2 separate regions of the Homo sapiens genome follow, and region 2 is linked to region 1. Evidence: fine-mapped expression QTL. A gene starts in region 1. The other region holds a variant in brackets. All regions are shown on one strand. Distances are from middle to middle.

Region 1 (5,383 bases):
AGCTCTGCTCATTGTAGTTACACAGGAACCCAGACTGACTGTGTAGCCACTATCTTGCATGTTGCTAGTTGCTGTAGTAGAAGGAAAGAGTTCTGAAGGGTCTTACAATGACAAGCCTGGAAGTGACTCATTTCACGTCTGCTCATAACTAATAGGCCAAAATTAGTTACATGATATTATTCAACTACAAGCCAGGAAGAGCAGTTCTCTCTTGTGCCCAGAATGGCAGACAAAGGAATTATTTGTTTAACACCATGAATACTTACCAAAATAGGTAAACAAAAAAGATAATTAAAATACTTGTGACATGTGCTGTAAATGGGGGAAAAGCTGGGCCCTGTAAGTAATTGAAGGACCTATTTAAAGTGGGTGGTCTGGGAGGTCTCTCTGAAGGTTTGCATTGAAACCTCAAAAGTCAGATGGAGTGAACAAGACTTAGATGAAGAACATTCCAGAGAAGAAACAAGAAGCATAAAGGCCTTAGGGTGGAATGAGCTTGGTTTAGCTTGAAACTGACAGAAGACAAGATATTTCAAAATCAAAGAAACAATGGGGGTGGCAAGGGACTGTCATGAGATAGGAGATACTATCACCTACCATCAGCAGTCAGTGCACAGAAGGCCCTGAAGGCCATATCAAGTAGTTAGGATTTTAACCTACCTGCAATAGGAAGCCTTTGAAAGGCCTTAGGACAACAAGTGCATGTTTAAGTTTTAAAAGAGTAACTCCCAAAGTGGGGAATTATCTAGAAAAGGATGAGTGAAAATAGGACACCAACAGGGAGGCTATCATAGCACATAGCATCATAGCAGTGTAGACAGAGATGACAGTGACAGGGATGGGGGATATGTGAGGGTGCAGGGAGTAGTAATAGTGAAGATGGCAAGAAATGAACAAATTTAAGACATATTTTGAAATATTTACTGATGGATTGAATAAGAGAAAAGTTGAGAATGGGAAGAGTGATTATGACTCCCATGTTTCTGGTTTTAGTGATAGGGTGGTTGGCAGCGCCATTTACAGAGATATGTGGGGGACAACTAGGTTTAACATCTACAGGAGACCAGATCCTATTCTGGACATGTTAAGTTTGAGAAATCCAAATGAGTAAGAAGTTAAATATAAGAATAGATCACATAGGAAAAGTCTAGTTAAAGATTTTTTTTTTAGATGATCTTGCTCTGTCACCCAGGCTGGAATGCAGTGGTGCCATCATAGCTTACTGTGGCCTCAAACTCCAGGGCTCAAGTAATCCTCCTGCCTCAGCTTCCCAAGTAGCTGGGAAGGCAGAAGTCCGCCACTGTACCCAACTAATTTTTTTAATCTTTGTGTTTTGTAGAGATGGTGTCTCATTTTGTTGCCCTGGCTGGTCTCCAACTCCTGGCTTCAAGCGATCTTCCAGCCTTGTCCTCCCAAGGTGCTAGGATTACAGGCATGAGCCACTGCACCCGGCCAAAGATATAAATCAAGAGCTCTCAGCATGATGTAACTCAGAAATCACACAGGTGGGAGTGTGTTGGAGAAGAGATGGAGATTCTAGGACTTGCCTAACAAATTCCCCCTTGAGATTTGTTTCCAGAAATCGTATCACTATTGGGTATGTGGATTTGTATTTCTAATTATCAGGGAGTAAAATTAACAAATGACAATCTAGGTAGATGTTAATATTTGGAGGGATTTCTTCTGATTTGAAACCCATTTGCTATTCTACTCTAAATGATAGCAAAAAAAAAAAAAATACATTTCCAAACACTATTGACATCCCCATTTTACACAAGTGGAAAACTGAAGCAGAAGGGGGTTCAGTAACTTGCCCAAGAAGACACAAAATTAGCAAGAAGTGGGACCTGTATCGCAAACTAAACAATTTGGCTCCAGAGTCTGTTTGGAACCCCTACACTGTACGGCAATGGTGGTAAAGTAGCTTAGTTAATGTGTTTAGTGGGTTACAAATAATAGATTATATATATGAGTTTTATATATAGTAATAGTTATATATGTATATATATTATACGTATATTTCTAGCTCCAATAAGAGCTTTTATTGGATCTATGTTCATGTGCGCATGCCTGGATCATTAGGGTTGTGAGGAACAATTCAAGTGGTAGCTATGCACTATGGCATTACAACTAAACCCTAGGAAGAACAGAACTGACTTCACCAGAACAGTCCTGAAGTTTCAAACCATTAAAAACAAACAGTAAATTTAAAAAACGCAAATTGTACTAGACAGTTTGGTTTGCTCCACTTTACGGCATCAAACTGAATGCCTGGACGTCATTTGCTGGTCAGGAAGATGAGTTAATTTTTTTTTTCCTGCCACACACTTAAGTTTTTTGCTCCAGGGAACATTATACATAGTGTTAACACACTCAATTTACATTGTAGTTTTAGTGTTGAAGATTTCCTGGAGGGCAGGAATAGCGTTATTCCATCGTTTTTAGCCCAGTCAGACTGGATGACGGAGAGAGGGAGGGGTGAAAAGGAGGGAGGGAAGGGGAAAAGGCAAGGAAGAAGGAATTCAAATTAAACACTCTTCCTATACATTTTTAGAAGCTGAGCAAGATGCCCTCCAAGATTATGTTTTTTAAAAAGTAAAGTTTTTCCCATTAATGGTGGTGCAGAAGCGTCCTAATCCCATCGAAAGTACTCTCACTCTTCCTCCATTCGCTGTCTTGACCTCCCCCGGGCCTCCTTCATTCTGCCTCCCAGTCCCGCCCACTTGTCGCCGGCTCCTACCCTCCACTCTAGCCTTCCCGGCAGCCTGTACATTGCGCATGCGCACTAGTGGCGTTCGCGCCGCGGACCCAGAGAGAGGCGTTCCGCGGAGGAGAAGAGGAAGAGGAAGTTGGGGGAGGGTCCTAGCGGGGAGTGAACCGGAAGTGTAAAGGTTCCTGCCTCTCCTCGGCCAGGCGGAACCTCTCTGCTGGGCCCGGTGGCCGCAAAAGAACTTTCTTTCTCCCGCCCGAACGGTCGCCGCGGCCAACTGCCTCGCCCGCCTGGCAGCCTAACCCTCCTTCTCTTCTTCTCCTCTCCGGCTTCGCGCGGCCCTGCCTCCCTCTCGCCCGGCGGCATCCGCTTGCTGCTGCCACCGCCTCCTCATCTTCTGCCCGGCCAACCGGCCTGCCCCGCTGCAGTGATGTGCGACAAGGAGTTCATGTGGGCCCTGAAAAACGGAGACTTGGATGAGGTGAAAGACTATGTGGCCAAGGTAAGCGGGGATGAGAAGAGTAGGCGAGAACACGGAGGTGGGCTGGAGATGAGGCTGAGGAAGCTGATGGGAGCTGGACTGCGGGGATGGGGGTGGGCGGGAGGAGAGACTTCCTGGGTGGAGGCGGCACCAAGGAGAGAGGGGCGTCTAGGGAGGAGCTAAACTGAAAGAAGGGTCCAGGTAACTTGGTAGCGTTCTGTGTCAGGTAACTGCTGCGTTAATACAGTTAGGCGCTACCTGACTTCCTGGCCTCTTGGGGGAGGGGAGGAGTGGTGTCTGGCTCATCCAGAGTTTCTTCTGCGCACTGATCATTTGAGTTTGGCCCTCTTCTACACCAAAGTTACTTAAACCTTTCTTTGAATGAGGTAATTCTCCATCTTGGACTTACCCATTACTAAATGAAGTAACCTAAGTAATTAGGATCAGAGGAACATGTTTTTTAACTCTCGGCCTGGTGTGAAGTTGAAGAATTCATTGACCGTGAAAAGAGTACCGAAAATAGAAATAGTTAAAATTCTGAAACTGAGTATCACTTCACTGTGGTGTCTTAACTTTGGGTGTGGCCTTTTTCCTTTCCCCCACCACAACAAATACATATTTGCTTCAAGTGGTAAGGTTGTCAACTGGCATCTGGGAATGTTTAAGGTATCTGAATAGTTTTTAAACAAGCATGTTAACTTCAGTTATTCCATTCTTCTCCCTGATTTCACCTGAAATGCTTACATGTGTAGTAAATAGCAATGCAGTTTAGTGGCAGTGTATTTGGGGGGTAAAATCATGATGAAGAAAGACAAACTCAAACCTCAGCCCCAAATATAAAACTGAATCGACATTGTGGCAGAGTGGGAAACTTAAAATTCCAAGCTAGCCTGTCTTTCCATCCTGAAACTGTGCCTTTGTAATTATGAGAGAACTTAACATGTGATTTTAATTTAGTGATAATCTAAAATGAATCTTCCAAAACAAGTATAATTTTATGACAACCACGGATGGCATCTTGCTCACCTTCTAAAAGTGTGAGAACCCAGTCTAGATTTTAACTCTTCAAAGAATAGGACCTGACCTGGGTTTTTGCTTCAGAGGCTGTGTTAGGAAGCAAGTAAGCGAAGCAGTTTCTTAAAACTTACAGGATTGTGCAAGGCAAACTGCTGAAGGTTTTTACTTTATTTAATGCCATTACAATTTAGACTTTTTGGATGCTGCTTACCTGCTTAGTTTTTTGCAGTGGAGTTTTAGGACAGGCTGTCTTCTCGTCACTGCCTTCTCAGCTGGTAGCCAACTGAAACTTGACTTATTGGCTATTTCAATATAAAGCTAAAAGGTAGAAATTATTTGGTACACTTACCAGTGGTGGGACACTGCAATACTCTGGAAGTAAGTGGGCTTTTGTTTTCCTGTCATGGTGGAACCTAGGTTGTTTGATATACTTGAAATACAAAAAGTTGATTAAGTACTAACTGAACTTACAGCTACCAAAATAACACAATGTATTTAGTGTTTTCCTGACACATTATTTTATGTCATCCTTGTGAATACTGGGAAGTAAGTCCTATTATTGGTCCCATTTTACAGATTACTGAGATGCAGGATACTTAAGAAAAGTTATGGAGATGGTAAATTGTGAAGCAAGAACTAAATTGCTGACTCCAAAACTGAAACTCTTTAACTGCTCCACGCACTATCTCTCAGTCTAAGATCTAATTGTGAAAGCGTATCATACCAAGATTTCTAGTAGGACATTCCCAGGGTCCACATTCAGGCAGGTAAATTGTGCCCAAAGAATTCTCAACTACACAAAAATATTTATATGAAAATATATGCCAATAAAGATGGATTAATTTATTTCCAATTAGTTTTATAATTAGGTTAGGTTATCATGTTCAATTTGATTATTTTCCCTATATTACTACCGTAGCCTGTTCTTCATTAATGTAAAAAATTTGCATAAGAGGGAGGGTAGACATTCAGAAAAAGCAAAAGGGAGTATTGAAAGTTGGACTATCCAAAAAGATATGACTGTAACTGTAATGTAATCTGATGTACAGAGCATTGAGCTTTATCCTTTCTTAGTTTTGAAGATTTCATAAAGTATCTTTCACTTTGTTAATGAGAAATAATAACAAGAACTGAAGTTTATACTGACTCAGCTCCCTTACGGTGCCCATTTATAC
Region 2 (5,383 bases), 170 kb after region 1:
CGAAGGCCTGAGGAAAAGAAGTGAATTTTACGTCTAAACTCACAAACACAGTGGAAAGGCTTGCCTCTCTATCCCACTCTATCTTTTTTCCAACTTAGGCTCTGTATTCATCTTAGTAACTTAATGGACCATAACACTACGGTGTCTAATATTGCCAACCCCAACAGACCGTTCGCTGCTCTAAAACGATAGGAGAGTTCTAACCATTTTGTATCCCCACAGCACTGACCAAAGTATAGGGTTGTGCTTTTCAAATTAAATGAAGATACAGATGCCAGGGCCTCATCCCAGACTGACTGACTGAAAATCTCAGAGTAGGAAACTGTATTTTTCAAAAGCTTCCCCAGTGATTCCAATGAGAAGCCTGCTTTAGAAATCACTGGTTGGCCAGGTGCAGTGGCTCATGCCTGTAATCCCAGTATTTTGGAAGGCTGAGGCAGGTAGATCACCGGAGGTTAGGAGTTTGAGAGCAGCCTAGTAAATATGGTGAAACCCCATCTCTATTAAAAATACAAAAAATTAGCCAGGCATGGTGGCGGGCACCTGTAATCCCAGATACTTGGGAGGCTGAGGCAGGAGAATCACTGGAACCCAGGAGGCAGAGGTTGCAGTGAGCCGAGATCATGCCACTGCACTCCAGCCTAGGCAACAAGAGTAAAACTCCATCTCAAAAAAAAAAAAAAAAAAATTAGCCGGGCGTGGTGGCACATGCCTATAATTCCAGCTACTCAGGAGGCTGAGGCAGGGAGAATTGCTTGAACTGGGAGGCAGAGGTTGCAGTGAGCCAAGATCGCACTCCAGCCTGGGCACCAGAGCAAGACTCCATATTAAAAAAAAAAAAAGAAAGAAAGAAACCACTGGTTAAGCAGAGCCACAGAGCCACAGTAGGTGCTCAATTTGTTGAATGCACATTGAAATCTACCTGGTTGGTAGACCGAGTTAGAAAACAAAAGGGAAATGCACGCTCTCTCTGTGTTAAAATTACTAAACCATCTAGCTGTCTTGACCTCAGGAGCAAAGCCTCATCTGTCTTCCTGTCTTCCTCATTATCAGGTTGGGTTTTGTTTGTTTTTTTTTTTTTTTCTAGAATGGCTGTATTTGCCCTTCTTAACCACTCAGTTAAGAACATGATCATGCCAAATTCCTTCACCAGCTTTAAAGTACAGAGAAAGGGGCTCTGCTATTAAGGATGCCAGACCAGCCTAAGGATAGGAAGATACAGCATCTGGGCGCAGTGGCTCACGCCTGTAATCCCAGCACTTTGGGAGACCAAGGACGGCAGATTGCTTGAGGTCAGGAGTTTGAGACCAGCCTGGGCAACATGGTGAAACCCCGTCTCTACTAAAAATAGAAAAATTAGCCGGGCGTGGTGGCACGTGCCTGTAGTCCCAGCTACTCAGAAGGCTGAGGCTGGAGAACTGCTTGAACCGGGGAGGCAGAGGTTGCAGTGAGCTGAGATTGTGCCACTGCACTCCAGCCTGGGTGACAGAGCGAGACTCTGTCTCAAAATAAATAAGTAAATAGGAAGATATAGCAATCTGTGCCCTTGGTCAGTCAAATATTTTATGATACACATTTTCTAGGTTCATTTCAAGTCCAGAATGCGCTGACATGATGGGGAAGGGGAGGATTAAAATGCACAAGCGAGAAGAAAGGAGGGACAGAATTCTTCTGGGCCTTTTTCTAATCTGTGCTTTTCCTGAGCCTATGCTGGAGAAGGGAGCCGTCCTTGGCTCCGTGCCCTTGGCCTGCTAATGTCGACAATAGTTCCCGTGATCCAGACAAGTCTTGCAGTTTATAACACAGGCAAGAGATATGATATTGCAGCCACTTTGGCTCTATTCTCTCTCCACGACAGGCATGTGATTGCTGCACAAAGGAGGGAGAAATGCAGCCATCGGCTGCAGAGACAGAGAGGAGGCCGGGAGGAAAGGGTGAGTCTTTGGTTGTGATGAAGACATTTTAAATCGGGAGAGTGAGACATAAATGTCAGAGCAGCTCTCCTCTTCATGGCCTGAAAATCTGCAACAGCAAACAAGAAATGGTTCGGCGGTGGAAGGAGGTTAATGGGCCACGGCTCTATGCCCAGGCCTAGCTGGGTGGCCCTGAGCCATCACAGGGTCCTTCACCAAGGGAGGGGAGAAATTCTGAACTTGGGCCATATAAGAAGGGCCAACAGCATGGATAGCTTTAATACAGTCAGGATTCCTCCAACTTTAGTATGCCAGAATCATCTAGAGATCTTGTTAAGAACTTAGATTCCTGGGCCCCACCACCCACGGTGGTCTTTGACCTACCACCAGACATGACCCAAAGCTCTGGAGTTCCAGTGGGCGGGGAGAAGCTGGAGTCTTCTTTCTGCTGTTTACCCATCATTATAAAATGCCACAGAGTCCACTTCTTGGCCTCCTAGCAGGCTTGCCAGCCAAGGCTTGCTTGCCCCTTAACTAACAGTGGGATAATGAATCTCCAGCAGGGCTGAGTTGCCCCAGAAACTTAAGTTCTTGTTAAGTCTGCACTGGCAGGAGCTGTGTTCTCGTTTGGAAATAGTTGGCCGGCCTGGGCTAGTTCA[T/C]GGGGAAATTCAGCCCTGGGTTTGCATCAGGAAAGCGGCTGATACTTGAGAACTCACTGAAAATGTGACCAGGATTAGATTACTCCCTTTGAGCTGGTCAGGTCAGATTTCCAGATGCAGCGGAGGCCATTTGGGGACAAGCCTTCCAATGGCCTACCTGATCACAGGCAGTGTTCTACTTTAGACCATCACACTGCCCTGCAAAGAAAGAAAGAGCGTGCGTATCTCTGTGTGTGAGTAGGGGTGCGAGTGTGGGTACTCAGGAGTATAGGCCTGAGGCACACTGTGTGCTGAGGTGTACAGCAGCCATGGATCTCAACGGAAGCACATGTGTAGGGCTCTGTGCAGGTCACTGCTTGTTTTATTCTTCCTTTTGGGGAAGAAAAAACCTTCCTACTTTCTCAGCATTGACCAAGCATCTCCTCTATTTTAAGCACCATGGGAGACATAAAGGCCCTGATATATCAGAATTTACAGCCTAGCTAGAGAATTTTGCAACAGAGGGCTGCATTTTACTCTATTTCTTTCTAATCCATTTCCAATCTATTTTACTCCAATCTTAATCTATTTCATCCACTCAGACAGTGCCCAGACCACCCCCCTTTTAGCCATATTTTTTCAACAGCTATTATGTGCCCAGTATTGTGCCAGGTGCTGGGGGTATACAAAAGAAGCCTACTAAGTAATTAGGGAGCCAAGTATATCTTGTATAAAACCAACAGGAAAAGAAAATGAAACAAATTTATGATGCCAATAATATGTATGAAACCCAAAGACCTTTCTCCCCAGCCACAGTTTTTCTCAAATTAGAGTAATGAATACTGTATTCAAAGAAAAAATTTTCAGGAACCTTCCAGTTTCACTTAAAAATTGTCATGTTACTCGAATGTGTATAAATATGAAACCTGGAATAATTTTTTAATTTACAAATAAATACCAAATAAAATTTATAAATTACTTACTCAAAAAAAAAGCCTTCTGAAAAAAATCAATATTCAAATTAACATTAATTTAATGATACTGTTTTGCTGCAACAAAATTGTTAGTCTTGGATTTAATAGTAGGAAAAGCCTCAGGTCTTTCTTTAATTCGTGTTGTAGTTTGGCTTTTATAATACTAATTCAGAGAGGGCCTGTTCATATAAAAGAACTGCTCAAAGTTATATTCATGGTTTCAAGGCTTTGTCTGCTAGTTCAGAATAATCAGACCTCATACTTATACTTAACCAAAACTTCCCCACATGTAATCCTCAAATGCCTATTTCAGTGATTGATCTTCTGATAACACCATGAAGCTGTCTCATTCCGTTGAAGATAAGATTAACATTATGACACTCTTCCATCTGCTTTAAATTTAATCTCATCATTACCTGTATTAGAAGAAAAACTATTCATTATAAATTTACTTATTTACTTATTTATTTAGAGACGGAGTCTCGCTCTGTAGCCTAGGCTGGAGTGCCATGGCGTGATCTCGGCTCACTGCAATCTCCACCACCCGGGTCCCGGTTTAAGCAATTCTCCTGCCTCAGCCTCTCGAGTAGCTGGGATTACAGGCATGTGCCACCATGCCCAGCTAATTTTTGTATTTTTAGTAGAGACGGGGTTTCACCATGTTGGCCAGGCTGATCTTGAACTCCTGACCTCATGATCCACCCTCCTTGCCCTCCCAAAGTGCTGGGATTACAGGCATGAGCCACCTCGCCTGGCCTCCTATATTTATTTTTAATGAACTGCAAGTTGCAAAGTACAGTCGAGCCACACAGTGTATCTATTTGTACGTGAAACTGCAATGGTGCAGATCCTTTGGTGTTCAGCATCCCGGCACCACAGTAAGCTACGAGATGACAAAGTTCTACCTCATCTCCTTATCTGAAACTCCAAAGCTTCATCCGTGCAGCCACTGTGATTTCTTGTCTTTTACCTGGTACAAATGGGATTTGGGCACAAAAGTACAAATGCAAGCACAAAAATATTATGACAAATTTTGGTTAAAGAATGGCTAGTCAGAAGATCTTAGATTAACAGTTTTAGATTTTCACTGAAGTAAAATCATAAAGCTAAAAATTAAAGAAACTGCAACTCCCTGTGAATGCTGAGCTGCATTCATAACCCTCCATTCTGACCATCCATCTCCCCACTTTCTCCATGCCAGGCCACGCAGGGCTACGTCTCACAAGAACTGGGTCAGTTAAAAGAATGAACTCAACGTCTACATGAGGGAAAGGGATAAAGCTGAGCACCAAGTAAATAGGACTTTCCCAGGCTCCAAAAGGAGAGCATCTAAAATATGAGTACCTCCACATAGGTGCCCCTGAATTGTACCCCTTCATTACCCACCTGGAACCCTTGACCCAGAATTCCTGTATCTCTCCTCAGACCATTGCCTTTCATCAAAACTCCCAAACTGGAATCTCTATTTGCCTTTGGGAAAAACAAACTGTTCACCAAAAGGGACCTCGGTGTCTACCATCATCTTCCTTCTCCCCTTAATTCACTTCCCAAGTCTAAATCACTTCGTCTGGAGGAGACTCTCGGGAATTCTAGATAATTGTGACAGCCATTGCTATGGTTTGAATGTTTGTGTCCCCTCCATAATTCGTATTCAAACATGCAACACTGTTAAGAGATGGGGCCTTGAGGAGGTGATTAGGCCATGAGGGCTCTGCCCTCGTGAGTGGATTAGTGTCTTATAAAAGGGCTGGAGGGGGTAGGCGAGGTGGCTCACACCTGTAATCCCAGCACTTTGGGAGGCAGAAGTGGGTGCATCACCTGAGGTCAGGAGTTCAAGACCAGCCTGACCAACATCATG

Which allele goes with the higher level. Alleles are on the strand shown, and positions count from the first base shown. SD is a standard deviation of normalised expression in the study named.
As copies of C replace T in region 2, the expression in skeletal muscle of the gene that starts at base 2,882 in region 1 goes down (small effect, 0.30 SD a copy in GTEx).

What was found. PIP is the estimated chance that this variant, and not a neighbour inherited with it, causes the effect.
Region 2: its variant is the best candidate, but not a certain one, in a credible set for the expression of MTPN in skeletal muscle (GTEx, PIP 0.88).

The regions. Positions count from the first base shown.
Region 1 is chr7:135,974,858-135,980,240 of GRCh38, reverse strand. It overlaps MTPN (myotrophin), which reads left to right and starts at 2,882. Exons shown (of 4, transcript NM_145808.4): 1 at 2,882-3,212. The coding sequence starts at 3,141.
Region 2 is chr7:135,805,596-135,810,978 of GRCh38, reverse strand. No RefSeq gene overlaps it. Among named protein-coding and RNA genes, the nearest start is that of FAM180A, 59 kb to the right of the region's middle. The variant T/C (reference allele first, on the strand shown) is at 2,573.